Linked DNA regions of Homo sapiens. The protein of the gene in region 1 purifies or fractionates together with the protein of each later gene. This does not show direct contact. Each region holds a gene or a part of one and is shown on either strand. Other genes may lie near its edges.

Region 1 (7,026 bases):
TAAGTACTTCACACCTCAAGTAGTTAGAAGGTGAACAGATTGTAAACAGGAGCAAGGAAATCCTGTTTTGAATAGAGTTCAGATACCCTTAGATTCATTGGGTTAACATGTACCTGCTTTTCTTTCTTTAGGAATTTGGAGTAGTTTCAAATACAAGATTGATTGCTGCTGCTACTTCTGTATGTAAGTGCAAAAAGTATATCTGCTTTAAGGATGTAATTCTAAAGAAAGCTCCAGAGTACATAGATTTTTTTTTTTTTAGTTTATGAGACATATGAGATTGGTTGGCTTTATTAAATTTCCTGAGGATAACTTTATATCTAGTGTATCTGGCAAAAAAATCAAGCTAAAAGGTTTTTTTTTAAAAAGATATAAAGATATTACTTTTAATGTTAAAATGGATAGTAATTATCAATCCAAAAACATCAACTCAGTGGCTTTTAATCTTGTAAGAGTAAAGAAAAAATTCTGTTTCCGAATTTTATTGTATTTTATTGTTTTCTAATGACTATTATGTCATTCTTATGGGTAGATATTAATATCTATGTGCAAACCCGTTCCTGTGTTGTTGGGTTGTTATGAGGACCAAATGAGTTAATATAAGCTTTTAGAACAGTGCCTTGCTTAGTATGTTACTTTGCTGAGGCTGCCATAACAAAATGCCACAGAACAGGTGGCTTAAACAACAGAAGCGTATTTTCTCACAGTTTTAGAGCATGGAAATCCAAGATCAAGGTGTCTGGCTATTCTTACATGGACCTTTCTGTGAGCACACACACTCCTGGTTTGCTGTCTTCTTCATGTGAGGACAATAGTCTTACAGAATTAGGCCCCACTCTTATGTCCTCATTTAATCTTTTTTTTTTCTTTCTTTTTTTTTTTTTTTTTTTTGAGACAGAGTCTCGCTCTGTCGCCCAGGCTGGAGTGCTCACTTCAACTTCCGCCTCCTGGGTTCAAGTGATTCTCCTGCCTCAGCCTCCTGAGTACCTGGGACTACAGGCATGTGCCACCATGCCCAGCTCATTTTTGTATTTTTTAGTAGAGACGGGGTTTCACCATGTTGGCCAGACTAGTCTCAAACTCCTGATCTCGTGATCCGCTAGCCTCGGCCTCCCAACGTGCTGGGATTATAGGTGTGAGCCACCATGTCTGGCCTGTCCTCATTTAATCTTATCCCTTTAAAGACCCTCTCTCCAAATACAGTCACATTCTGAGGTACTAGGAGTTAGGGCTTCAACATACGAATTTTGGAGGGGGACATATATTGGTCCACAATACTTGGTAAACTTTAGGGGCTATCATCATCATCATCATCTTCAATGACAACAACATCATTATCACTGGAAAACACTGTGCCAATGCAGTGGCATTGGTACCAAGGTAAAATACAAGGAATTTAAGGACAAAAAAAGAAGACAGAAACATAAAAATATTAATACAGAAGGAAATAAATAGTATAAGAGAGTTACAGAGAATGCTGTGAATGTTTTGGGTGGGAAAAGATTGTTTCATGAATCCAGAAAGGATTAAGTAGAACTTGGTGAAGGAAGTTGAACTGGGGAAATGCAAGAGATAGACAGTCTAAGAACACTGAATAGTTTAGTCAAATAGGGAAAGCTCATGAGTTAGATTAACTGAATGGTGAGTAAGGAAATAGTGGGGAAAACTCCTTACCTAATTTCAGCTAATAGAGGGCCTTCGATGCTAAATGAAGGAATCTGCACTTTGTTCTATTGACAGTAATGAAAGTTAGTTATTTGAGATGGAGTCTCGCTCAGCCGCCCAGGCTGGAGTGCAGTGGCACGATCTTGGCTCACTGCAACCTCTGCCTCCCAGGTTCAAGCGATTCTCCTGCCTCATCCTCCCTGGTAGCTGGGATTACAGGTGTGTGCCACCACGCCGGGCTAATTTTTGTATTTTTAGTAGAGATGGGGTTTCAACATTTTGGCCAGGCTGGTTTTAAACTCCTCACCTCAGGCCTCCCAAAGTGCTGAGATTACAGGCGTGAGCCACTGCACCTGGCCAGTTTTATTTATTTTTACACATGAGGGTAATGCCAGCATTGTGCATTAGGAAGGTAAATCTGACCCACCTCAGCCTCCCAAAGTGCTGAGATTACAGGCGTGAGCCACTGTGCCTGGCCAGTTTTATTTATTTTCACACATGAGGGTAATGCTAGCATTGTGCATTAGGAAGGTAAATCTGACAGAATTATGTAAGATGAATTGGAGGAGAGGGCAGGTAGAATTAGACAAATTTTGAAGTTATTTACATCCCACAACATGGATGAACCTTGAGGACATTATGGTAAGTGAAATAAGCCAGTAACAAAGACAAATATTGTGTGATTACACTTACATGGAATACTTAGTCAAATTAATAAAGATAGAAAGTAGAATGGTAGGGCTGGAGGAAGGGTGGTATAGGGAGTGATTAATGGATACAGAGTTTCAGTTTTGCAAAAATTTTGTATATCTTAACACAATTTAAAAACAAAAACCTTCTGAAATACAGTAAAACTGCAAACTGTATTGAGTGCTGTCACTTACCACAGGGTGCTATGAGAAATAAAACCTAACAAGTTTAAAGTGGAAAAAATAATTTTTAAGTTGCTGAAGTCATCCCAGTGAACACTAATGAAGGCTTAAACGAATATTGGCAGCCAGCAAGAAGAACAAACAAGCCAGATTTGAGCGATAGAGTCAGCAGTTCTTATAAAAAGAAGGGATTTAAGAAGAGTCAGAAATGTGTTTTGAGGTTTTTTTGCCTGGGGGTTGGGGAGCTGAAGCTGGTACTGAAAAAGAGAATAAGTGAGTTCTGAAAAGAATTAAATTTAATCTTTGACATTCTAAGTATAAATATGTTAGTAGAACATCCTCTTAAAAATGTGAGGCCAGCAGTAGAAATTTGGAATTTGATAACATTTAAGAGTTGCACAGGCCAGGTATGGTGGTTCCTGCTTATAATCCGAACACTTTGGGAGGCTGGAGCAGGAGGATTGCTTTAGAACAGGAGTTCAAGACCAGCCTGGACAACATAGCAAGATTCCAGCTCTGCAAAAAATTAAAGAAAAACTAACTGGGCATGGTGGCACACACCTGTAGTCCTAGCTACTCAACTAGGCTGAAGTGGGAGGGTTGCCTAAGCCCAGGAGTTCAAGGCTGCAGTAAACTGTGATTATGCCACTGCACTCCAGCCTGGGCAATGGAGTAAGACTCTGTCCCTAAAAATTAAAAAAAAAAAGAGTTCCACAATGTCTTATGCTGCATAGAAAAAGATGTGAACCAAAGAAAAAAACATCTTTGAGAGAGAACATAGTGTCATTAACAATGTGGGGGTGGAGGTAGAAGCCAGATTGCAAGGAATTAAGAAGCAAGTAGGTGCTGAGAAAGGAATAGTCTAACTATATTAAAAATATATGAAACAACTTCAGTGAAGGGAATTGGGGGAAAGGTGTTGACATAAGTAGCTTTGGAAATGATTAAGAGTGTAAGAGTAAAGGCAAAAGGAACTACACATAAGCACTGTACTCTAGTTGATAAAGTTATTACCCATGGGTGTACAAGTTAACAATTCTGATAATGCTATACATGTATATGGGAATTAAACAATTACGTAAATCAATAGCAAATGTTTGAGAGCCGGGTTTCTCATTGTTGGAGCGGGAATTTACAGATAAGCAAAGGGCTGGAAACAGCATGAACTCGTGTACCTTAATACAATATAGATGGTTAGTTACATATAGAAATATTTATAGATAAGTGTATATACATGGGTTAGTGTGTGTATTTCTTGGCTTTCTCAGCTGAAAGGGTCTATAAGCAATGACATCCCAGTAGCAATGAGCTCACCTAGTACCCATATCTTGGTTTCTAATATCATTCTCCAATAAAAGGTACCAGGGCTCCTTGGAGAAATGGTTGATTCTAGGACTGGGGCAAGAAATACACAAGATGGACCTGGACCATCTCTTAATGCCAGTAATAAAGAAGTATTCAAAACAAACAAGAAAAACAAAAACGTCTATTGATGAGGATATGTCAAAAGGATATAGGAGCTAACTAAGAGAGCTCCCACTGACCAAAGCTGAAAGAATTTGAGCATCAAAATTTTAAAAATAGCATTGGATAATAACTCAAAGTATAAACTAAATATCCATGAGTCCATACTGATATAAATAAATGAGGGAGAAGAGACATGTCTTCCATGCTGAAGAATTCCAAATAATATATGTAACTATTCTGCCCTCAAGTAGAGGGAGCATAACTCCCCACTCCTAAGGTGCTGGCTATACATGTTAACTTCCTGCTAGTGTGTACATATGGAAAGGGAGGAAAAAGGTAACTTTACAGTGGGGAAACCTGAGAAATACTGCCTTAGCCAGGCGATCAAGGTCAGTAGCAACAGTGATAAATCACATTAATATCATGTATCATTGATGTGATATGATGAAGATGGTACTTTATCTCGGTGGTCTTCCTGTCAAAAACCCATTTTCTCTAGTCTAATGAGAAAAACATCAGACAAATTCCAGTAGAGGGGCATTTGACAAAATACTTGACTGGTACTCCTAAAAACTGTCAAAGTCATCAAAAACAAGGAAAGGCTAGAAAACTGTCACAGCCAAACAGTCTAAGGAAACATGACAAATAAATATAATGTGGTATCCTAGATAAGACCCTAGGATAGAAAAAGGACATTGGTACAAACTAAGGAGATCTGAAAAAAGTACAGTTTAGTTAATAATAACATTTCAATATTGGGTCAGTAATTGTAACAAATGCGCCATACTAATGTAAGATGTTAATAGTAGGGGAAGCTGGGTGAAGGCATGTCTTAGTCCACTTGGGCTAATATAAGAAAGTACCATAGACTGGGTGGCTTTCACAACAGACATTTATTTCTCACAGTTCTGGAGGCTGGGAAGTCAATAACGGTGGGTATAAGAGAACTGTGCATGATCTCAGTGTTTGAGTCTACAAAAATAAAAGGCAGAGGAATATAATTAGGTAGAGTTTGTTTTGCTTTTTTCAAGGGAAATTTGAGCATATTAGTATGTGATGGAAGATTTACTGAAGGAGGAAGGTTAAAGATGAAAAAAATAGCAGGAGTTATCAATTGAATAGATGATAATAAGTGTATAAGTGGTAAGACAAACAATAGAGAGGAGGGATGTATTTTTCTCCAAGTTGGAGGAAAAGGATTAAAAGACAGAAAAAAATGCAGAGCAGTTTTAGCATGGAGTAACAGACATGTGACAGTATCAGGTAAATATATTCTCAATAGAGGTGTTAGGTGTCAAGGTCCAGGGGATGGGGATGTAGATTTGTTTTATATACAGAGATAATTTTACTTTGTTGATTGTCTACCATTATATAAGAACCTGTTGTGCTGGTATACTTTACATCACAAGGATTTGTAAAACTCAGAAACCTTAATAGGTACGTCTTAAATTTAAATAAAGGAGAGAAGAAAGGAAAGATTATAAATTTACTAATGTCAAGTTTAAATTATTCTAGGTTTCAAATCCTGGCAGATATTACACATCTAAATTAGCTGTAGGGCACTGAATTTGCAAAACAAATCTTTTTGAAAACATAGTGCATAGAAGAAATGGAATTTCTTTCTTTTTTTTTTTTTGAGATGGAGTCTCACTGTCACCCAGACTGGAGTGCAGTGGTGTGTTCTCAGCTCACTGCACCCTCTGCCTCCCGGGTTCAAGGGATTCTCCTGCCTCGGCCTCCCGAGTAGCCGGGACTACAGGTGCATGCCACTACACTCGCCTAATTTTTGTATTTTTAGTAGAGATGGGGTTTCACCATGTTGTCCAGGAGGTCTCGAACTCCTGACCTCAGGTGATCCACCCACCTTGGCCTCCCAAAGTGCTGGGATTACAGGCATGAGCCACTGTGCCTGGCCAGAAATGGAATTTCTTTTAATTTCAGTGAAATCACTTGGGCTTTGTACAAATGGAAGCTGACACTAAACATTTTTTAGGACCTGTCAGTAGTTACTTGGTTGAATTAAATGTGTCATAATGGCTTGAATACAGTTTCTCAAATAGTACTTATGTGTATATGCTCACACCATTTTAAGGAGATGGGGGATTGATGGTTAACATTTTTTTTTCATTTGTACTTTATTTAGTGACTAACCAATAAAGTAATAGATAATAGAGTACTAACTTTATGTGTTACTACTACTACTTTATGAGTAACTCGAGACCTTTGCATATATATTAATGCTTTTATTAAAATATATATTTTGATAAATACCTGGTCATTGTAAAAAGTTTAGAAAGTGCAGATTAGTAAAAAGTTCTTAAATCTCACAAATAACCACTGTTAACATTTTTTTGGTGTACTATCCTCCCAATATTTTATATGTATATTTTTTACCAATTGTATATATTGTAAACACATATGTAACCCCTGTGTTCCTTCTAAGCTCAGTCACTGGAAAACAGAAGAATACCATTCTGTAGCTGAAAAGATTTTAGAAATGATAAAAGCCAGTGATTTTTTTTTCCTGATCTTTTTCTTTTTTAAACATCAGAATCCTTTCTTAAGGTAGTAAATATAAAATTGAAGCTGTGTAGAGTGTCCTGCCCCCCAGTCTTTCCCCTTCCCTGAAAGTAAATAAAAATCTGCGTCCGTAAGTGTTGCCAAGAATTCCTACTGAAAATAATTTTGCTCTACCCTCTAATATTCTGCTCTGTTAAAGGAATTTTGAGTTAATTTATTTCCCATTTTCTCAGTTTAAATTTTTTTTTTATTTTCTGCAGTAAAAACTAGATTTTCATATGCCTTTCCAAAGGAATTTCCTTATAGGATGAATCATGTAAGTATATGATATAAAATGGAACAATTATCAAAGCTATATATAAACTAGCTCTATTTTATATTAGACTAAATTTAATAGTTTCCTAGAAATGGCAGTTTCAAATATTACATAAATACAGACATTATTCTAAATTAAAGCTAAATAGCTTTTACCATTTAAAAAAAATACTTCATAGTGGCGATT
Region 2 (7,026 bases), on another chromosome or scaffold:
AAGGGTTGAATCACCACTGCCCAATAGAAGCATAATGTAAGTTATATAAATTCTGTATATGTAATTTTAAATTTTCTAGTAGCCACATTAAAAAGACAAAGTGAAATTTTCTTTAATATATCTAAAACGTTGTTTCAACATATAATCAGTCTAAATTGTTGTTTTTCTATAAACTAGGTCTACAAAATTGGCTGTGTATTTTACACATCTCAATTTAGCTAGATTTCAAGTGCCTAGTAGCTACTTGAAGCTATAGTGGATAGCTACTACAAACTAATCATTTCACAAATGATTAAATAATGTCAAAAGATTTTTTAGAAGCAGGAATTTCTGATTTCATATGTATGATTTTATGCATAAGTGATGAGGAAACAAAAGAACTAATATCTTTGTTATTTTTTGGCAGAGAGGAACGAAGGGCATCCTACGACTATAACCAAGATCGTACATATTATGAGAGTGTTCGAACTCCAGGCACTTATCCTGAGGATTCCAGGCGGGACTATCCAGCTCGAGGGAGAGAGTTTTATTCAGAATGGGAAACTTACCAAGGAGACTACTATGAATCACGATACTACGATGATCCTCGGGAATACAGGGATTACAGGAATGATCCTTATGAACAAGATATTAGGGAATATAGTTACAGGCAAAGGGAACGAGAAAGAGAACGTGAAAGATTTGAGTCTGACCGGGACAGAGACCATGAGAGGAGGCCGATTGAACGAAGTCAAAGTCCTGTTCACTTGCGACGTCCACAGAGTCCTGGAGCGTCTCCCTCTCAGGCAGAGAGGTTGCCGAGTGATTCTGAGAGGAGGCTTTACAGCCGATCCTCAGACCGGAGTGGAAGCTGTAGCTCACTCTCCCCTCCAAGATATGAGAAACTGGACAAGTCTCGTTTGGAGCGCTATACAAAAAATGAAAAGACAGATAAAGAACGAACTTTTGATCCGGAGAGAGTGGAGAGAGAGAGACGCTTAATACGGAAGGAAAAAGTGGAAAAGGACAAAACTGACAAGCAGAAACGCAAAGGAAAGGTTCACTCCCCTAGTTCTCAGTCTTCAGAAACGGACCAAGAAAATGAGCGAGAGCAAAGCCCTGAAAAGCCCAGGAGTTGTAATAAACTGAGCAGAGAGAAAGCTGACAAAGAGGGAATAGCGAAAAACCGCCTGGAACTCATGCCTTGCGTGGTTTTGACTCGAGTGAAAGAGAAAGAGGGAAAGGTCATTGACCACACTCCTGTGGAAAAGTTGAAAGCCAAGCTTGATAATGACACTGTCAAATCTTCTGCCCTGGACCAGAAACTTCAGGTCTCTCAGACGGAGCCTGCAAAATCTGACTTGTCTAAACTGGAATCAGTTAGAATGAAAGTACCAAAGGAAAAGGGGCTTTCAAGCCATGTTGAAGTGGTGGAGAAGGAAGGCAGGCTTAAAGCCAGGAAGCACCTCAAGCCTGAGCAGCCTGCAGATGGGGTAAGTGCTGTGGATCTGGAGAAGCTGGAAGCCAGGAAAAGGCGCTTTGCAGATTCCAATTTAAAAGCAGAAAAGCAAAAACCAGAGGTCAAGAAAAGCAGTCCAGAGATGGAGGATGCTCGCGTGCTTTCAAAAAAGCAGCCTGACGTGTCCTCTAGAGAGGTCATTCTGCTGAGGGAAGGAGAGGCTGAAAGAAAGCCTGTGAGGAAAGAAATTCTTAAAAGAGAATCTAAAAAAATCAAACTGGACAGACTTAATACTGTTGCCAGCCCCAAAGACTGTCAGGAGCTTGCCAGTATTTCTGTTGGGTCTGGCTCAAGGCCCAGCTCAGACCTACAAGCAAGACTGGGAGAACTAGCAGGTGAATCTGTGGAAAATCAAGAAGTCCAATCAAAAAAGCCCATTCCCTCAAAACCACAGCTCAAACAGCTGCAGGTATTAGATGATCAAGGACCAGAGAGAGAAGACGTTAGGAAAAACTATTGCAGTCTTCGTGATGAAACACCTGAACGTAAATCAGGCCAAGAGAAATCACATTCAGTAAATACTGAAGAAAAAATTGGCATTGACATCGATCACACGCAGAGTTACCGAAAACAAATGGAACAGAGTCGTAGGAAACAGCAGATGGAAATGGAAATAGCCAAGTCTGAGAAGTTTGGCAGTCCTAAAAAAGATGTAGATGAATATGAAAGACGTAGCCTCGTTCACGAGGTAGGCAAACCCCCTCAAGATGTCACTGATGACTCTCCTCCTAGCAAAAAGAAAAGGATGGATCATGTCGATTTTGATATCTGCACCAAGCGAGAACGGAATTACAGAAGTTCACGCCAAATCAGCGAAGATTCTGAAAGGACTGGTGGTTCTCCCAGTGTCCGACATGGTTCCTTCCATGAAGATGAGGATCCCATAGGCTCCCCTAGGCTACTGTCAGTAAAAGGGTCTCCTAAAGTAGATGAAAAAGTCCTCCCCTATTCTAACATAACAGTCAGGGAAGAGTCTTTAAAATTTAATCCTTATGATTCTAGCAGGAGAGAACAGATGGCAGATATGGCCAAAATAAAACTATCTGTCTTGAATTCTGAAGATGAACTAAATCGTTGGGACTCTCAGATGAAACAGGATGCTGGCAGATTTGATGTGAGTTTCCCAAACAGCATAATTAAGAGAGATAGCCTTCGAAAAAGGTCTGTACGAGATCTGGAACCTGGTGAGGTGCCTTCTGATTCTGACGAAGATGGTGAACACAAATCCCACTCACCCAGAGCCTCTGCATTATATGAAAGTTCTCGATTGTCTTTTTTATTGAGGGACAGAGAAGACAAGCTACGTGAGCGAGATGAAAGACTCTCTAGTTCTTTAGAAAGGAACAAATTTTACTCTTTTGCATTGGATAAGACAATCACACCAGACACTAAAGCTTTGCTTGAAAGAGCTAAATCCCTCTCTTCATCTCGTGAAGAAAATTGGTCTTTTCTTGATTGGGACTCCCGATTTGCAAATTTTCGAAACAACAAAGATAAAGAAAAGGTTGACTCTGCTCCAAGACCTATTCCATCCTGGTACATGAAAAAGAAGAAAATTAGGACTGATTCAGAAGGGAAAATGGATGATAAGAAAGAGGACCATAAAGAAGAAGAGCAAGAGAGGCAGGAATTGTTTGCTTCTCGTTTTTTACACAGCTCAATCTTTGAACAAGATTCCAAGCGATTGCAGCATCTAGAGAGAAAAGAGGAAGATTCTGACTTCATTTCTGGTAGGATCTATGGGAAGCAGACATCTGAGGGAGCAAACAGCACAACTGATTCCATTCAAGAACCAGTAGTTCTGTTCCATAGCAGATTTATGGAGCTCACACGGATGCAACAGAAAGAAAAAGAAAAAGACCAGAAACCCAAAGAGGTTGAGAAACAGGAAGATACAGAGAATCATCCCAAGACCCCAGAATCTGCTCCTGAGAATAAAGATTCAGAACTGAAAACTCCACCTTCCGTTGGGCCTCCAAGTGTCACAGTCGTAACTCTAGAATCAGCCCCATCAGCACTAGAGAAGACCACTGGTGACAAAACGGTAGAGGCGCCTTTGGTAACAGAAGAGAAGACTGTGGAGCCAGCTACCGTCTCAGAAGAAGCAAAGCCTGCATCTGAACCTGCTCCTGCCCCTGTGGAACAGCTGGAACAAGTAGACCTGCCCCCAGGAGCAGACCCCGATAAAGAAGCTGCCATGATGCCTGCGGGTGTTGAGGAAGGTTCATCAGGTGACCAGCCGCCTTATCTGGATGCCAAGCCTCCAACTCCCGGGGCCTCGTTTTCCCAGGCAGAGAGCAACGTAGATCCAGAGCCTGACAGTACCCAGCCACTTTCAAAACCAGCTCAGAAGTCTGAGGAAGCCAATGAGCCAAAGGCCGAAAAGCCAGACGCCACTGCAGATGCTGAGCCTGATGCAAACCAGAAAGCCGAAGCTGCTCCTGAGTCTCAGCCCCCAGCTTCTGAAGATTTAGAGGTTGATCCTCCAGTTGCTGCAAAGGATAAAAAGCCAAACAAAAGCAAGCGTTCAAAGACCCCTGTTCAGGCAGCTGCAGTGAGTATCGTGGAGAAGCCCGTCACAAGGAAGAGTGAGAGGATAGACCGGGAAAAACTCAAGCGGTCCAATTCTCCTCGGGGAGAAGCACAGAAGCTTTTGGAATTGAAGATGGAGGCAGAGAAGATTACAAGGACTGCTTCTAAAAACTCTGCTGCAGACCTTGAACATCCCGAACCAAGTTTGCCTCTCAGCCGAACAAGGCGCCGGAATGTAAGGAGCGTCTATGCAACCATGGGTGACCATGAAAACCGCTCTCCTGTCAAAGAGCCCGTTGAGCAACCAAGAGTGACCAGAAAGAGATTGGAGCGAGAGCTTCAGGAGGCTGCAGCGGTTCCCACCACCCCTCGGAGGGGAAGGCCTCCAAAGACACGCCGGCGAGCCGATGAAGAGGAGGAGAACGAGGCCAAGGAACCTGCAGAAACACTCAAGCCACCTGAGGGATGGCGGTCGCCAAGGTCCCAGAAAACTGCAGCTGGTGGTGGACCCCAAGGGAAAAAGGGAAAAAATGAACCGAAGGTGGATGCTACACGTCCTGAGGCCACCACTGAGGTGGGCCCCCAAATAGGCGTGAAAGAGAGCTCCATGGAACCCAAGGCTGCTGAGGAGGAGGCAGGGAGTGAACAGAAACGTGACAGAAAAGATGCTGGCACAGACAAAAACCCCCCTGAAACCGCCCCTGTTGAAGTTGTAGAGAAAAAACCGGCCCCTGAAAAAAACTCCAAATCAAAGAGAGGAAGATCTCGAAACTCCAGGTTAGCAGTGGACAAATCTGCAAGTCTGAAAAATGTGGATGCTGCTGTCAGTCCCAGGGGGGCTGCAGCACAGGCAGGGGAGAGGGAATCTGGGGTGGTGGCAGTCTCCCCTGAGAAAAGTGAGAGTCCCCAAAAGGAGGATGGTTTATCATCCCAGTTGAAAAGTGATCCAGTTGATCCAGACAAGGAACCAGAGAAAGAAGACGTGTCTGCCTCTGGGCCGTCCCCAGAAGCCACCCAGTTAGCCAAGCAGATGGAGCTGGAGCAGGCCGTGGAACACATCGCAAAGCTCGCTGAGGCCTCTGCCTCTGCTGCCTATAAGGCAGATGCACCAGAGGGCCTTGCCCCAGAGGACAGGGACAAGCCTGCACACCAAGCAAGTGAAACAGAGCTGGCTGCGGCCATCGGCTCCATCATCAATGACATTTCTGGGGAGCCAGAAAACTTCCCAGCACCTCCACCTTATCCTGGAGAATCCCAGACAGATCTGCAACCCCCCGCAGGTGCACAGGCGCTGCAGCCTTCTGAGGAAGGAATGGAGACAGATGAGGCTGTATCTGGCATCCTGGAAACTGAGGCTGCTACAGAATCTTCTAGGCCTCCAGTCAATGCTCCTGACCCCTCAGCCGGCCCAACAGATACCAAGGAAGCCAGAGGAAATAGCAGTGAAACCTCACACTCAGTGCCAGAAGCCAAAGGGTCTAAAGAAGTGGAAGTCACTCTTGTTCGGAAAGACAAAGGGCGCCAGAAAACAACCCGATCACGCCGCAAGCGAAACACAAACAAGAAAGTGGTGGCTCCTGTAGAGAGCCATGTCCCTGAATCCAACCAAGCTCAAGGTGAGAGTCCTGCTGCAAATGAGGGGACAACAGTACAGCACCCCGAAGCCCCACAGGAAGAAAAGCAGAGTGAGAAACCCCATTCCACTCCTCCTCAGTCATGTACTTCTGACCTAAGCAAGATTCCCTCCACAGAGAATTCGTCCCAAGAAATCAGTGTTGAGGAAAGGACTCCAACCAAAGCATCTGTGCCCCCAGACCTTCCCCCACCTCCCCAGCCAGCACCGGTGGATGAGGAGCCTCAAGCCAGGTTCAGGGTGCATTCCATCATTGAAAGTGACCCGGTGACCCCACCCAGCGATCCAAGCATCCCCATACCCACACTGCCTTCTGTAACTGCAGCAAAGCTCTCACCTCCTGTCGCCTCTGGGGGGATCCCACACCAGAGCCCCCCTACTAAGGTGACAGAGTGGATCACAAGGCAGGAGGAGCCACGGGCTCAGTCTACTCCATCTCCAGCTCTTCCCCCAGACACAAAGGCCTCTGATGTTGACACCAGCTCCAGCACCCTGAGGAAGATTCTCATGGACCCCAAGTATGTGTCTGCCACAAGTGTCACTTCCACAAGTGTCACCACAGCCATTGCAGAGCCTGTCAGTGCTGCCCCTTGCCTACATGAGGCCCCGCCCCCGCCAGTTGACTCTAAAAAGCCTTTAGAAGAAAAAACAGCACCTCCAGTGACAAACAACTCTGAGATACAAGCCTCGGAGGTGCTGGTAGCTGCTGACAAGGAAAAGGTGGCTCCAGTCATTGCTCCCAAAATTACCTCTGTTATTAGCCGGATGCCTGTCAGCATTGACCTGGAAAATTCACAGAAGATAACCTTGGCAAAACCAGCTCCTCAAACCCTCACTGGTCTGGTGAGCGCACTCACTGGCCTGGTGAACGTCTCCCTGGTCCCGGTGAATGCCCTGAAAGGCCCCGTGAAGGGCTCAGTGACCACACTGAAAAGTTTGGTGAGCACCCCTGCTGGGCCCGTGAACGTCCTGAAAGGGCCTGTGAATGTTCTTACGGGGCCAGTGAATGTTCTCACCACTCCAGTGAACGCCACGGTGGGCACAGTGAATGCCGCCCCAGGCACAGTCAATGCCGCTGCGAGTGCAGTGAATGCCACAGCAAGTGCAGTGACCGTCACAGCGGGTGCGGTTACTGCTGCATCTGGTGGTGTAACGGCCACAACAGGCACGGTGACAATGGCAGGGGCAGTGATTGCGCCGTCAACAAAGTGCAAACAGAGAGCGAGTGCTAATGAAAACAGTCGGTTCCACCCAGGGTCCATGCCTGTGATCGACGATCGTCCGGCAGACGCGGGCTCAGGGGCGGGGCTGCGTGTGAACACTTCTGAAGGGGTTGTGCTCCTGAGTTACTCAGGGCAGAAGA

The links. Proteins that work in one complex are often made in the same cells at the same time.
Region 2: the proteins of CCNC (region 1) and SPEN purify together in Homo sapiens (affinity purification with mass spectrometry; 4 studies listed by BioGRID and IntAct, with this or other methods). This does not show direct contact.

Annotation. Positions count from the first base shown.
Region 1 is NC_000006.12:99,551,654-99,558,679, reverse strand, and holds part of CCNC (cyclin-C), read left to right. Parts: intron 1-131; coding exon 132-183; intron 184-4,878; exon of another isoform or gene 4,879-6,784; coding exon 6,785-6,840; exon of another isoform or gene 6,841-7,026. UniProt on the Homo sapiens protein: Component of the Mediator complex, a coactivator involved in regulated gene transcription of nearly all RNA polymerase II-dependent genes.
Region 2 is NC_000001.11:15,927,685-15,934,710, forward strand, and holds part of SPEN (msx2-interacting protein), read left to right. Parts: intron 1-406; coding exon 407-7,026. UniProt on the Homo sapiens protein: May serve as a nuclear matrix platform that organizes and integrates transcriptional responses. In osteoblasts, supports transcription activation: synergizes with RUNX2 to enhance FGFR2-mediated activation of the osteocalcin FGF-responsive element (OCFRE).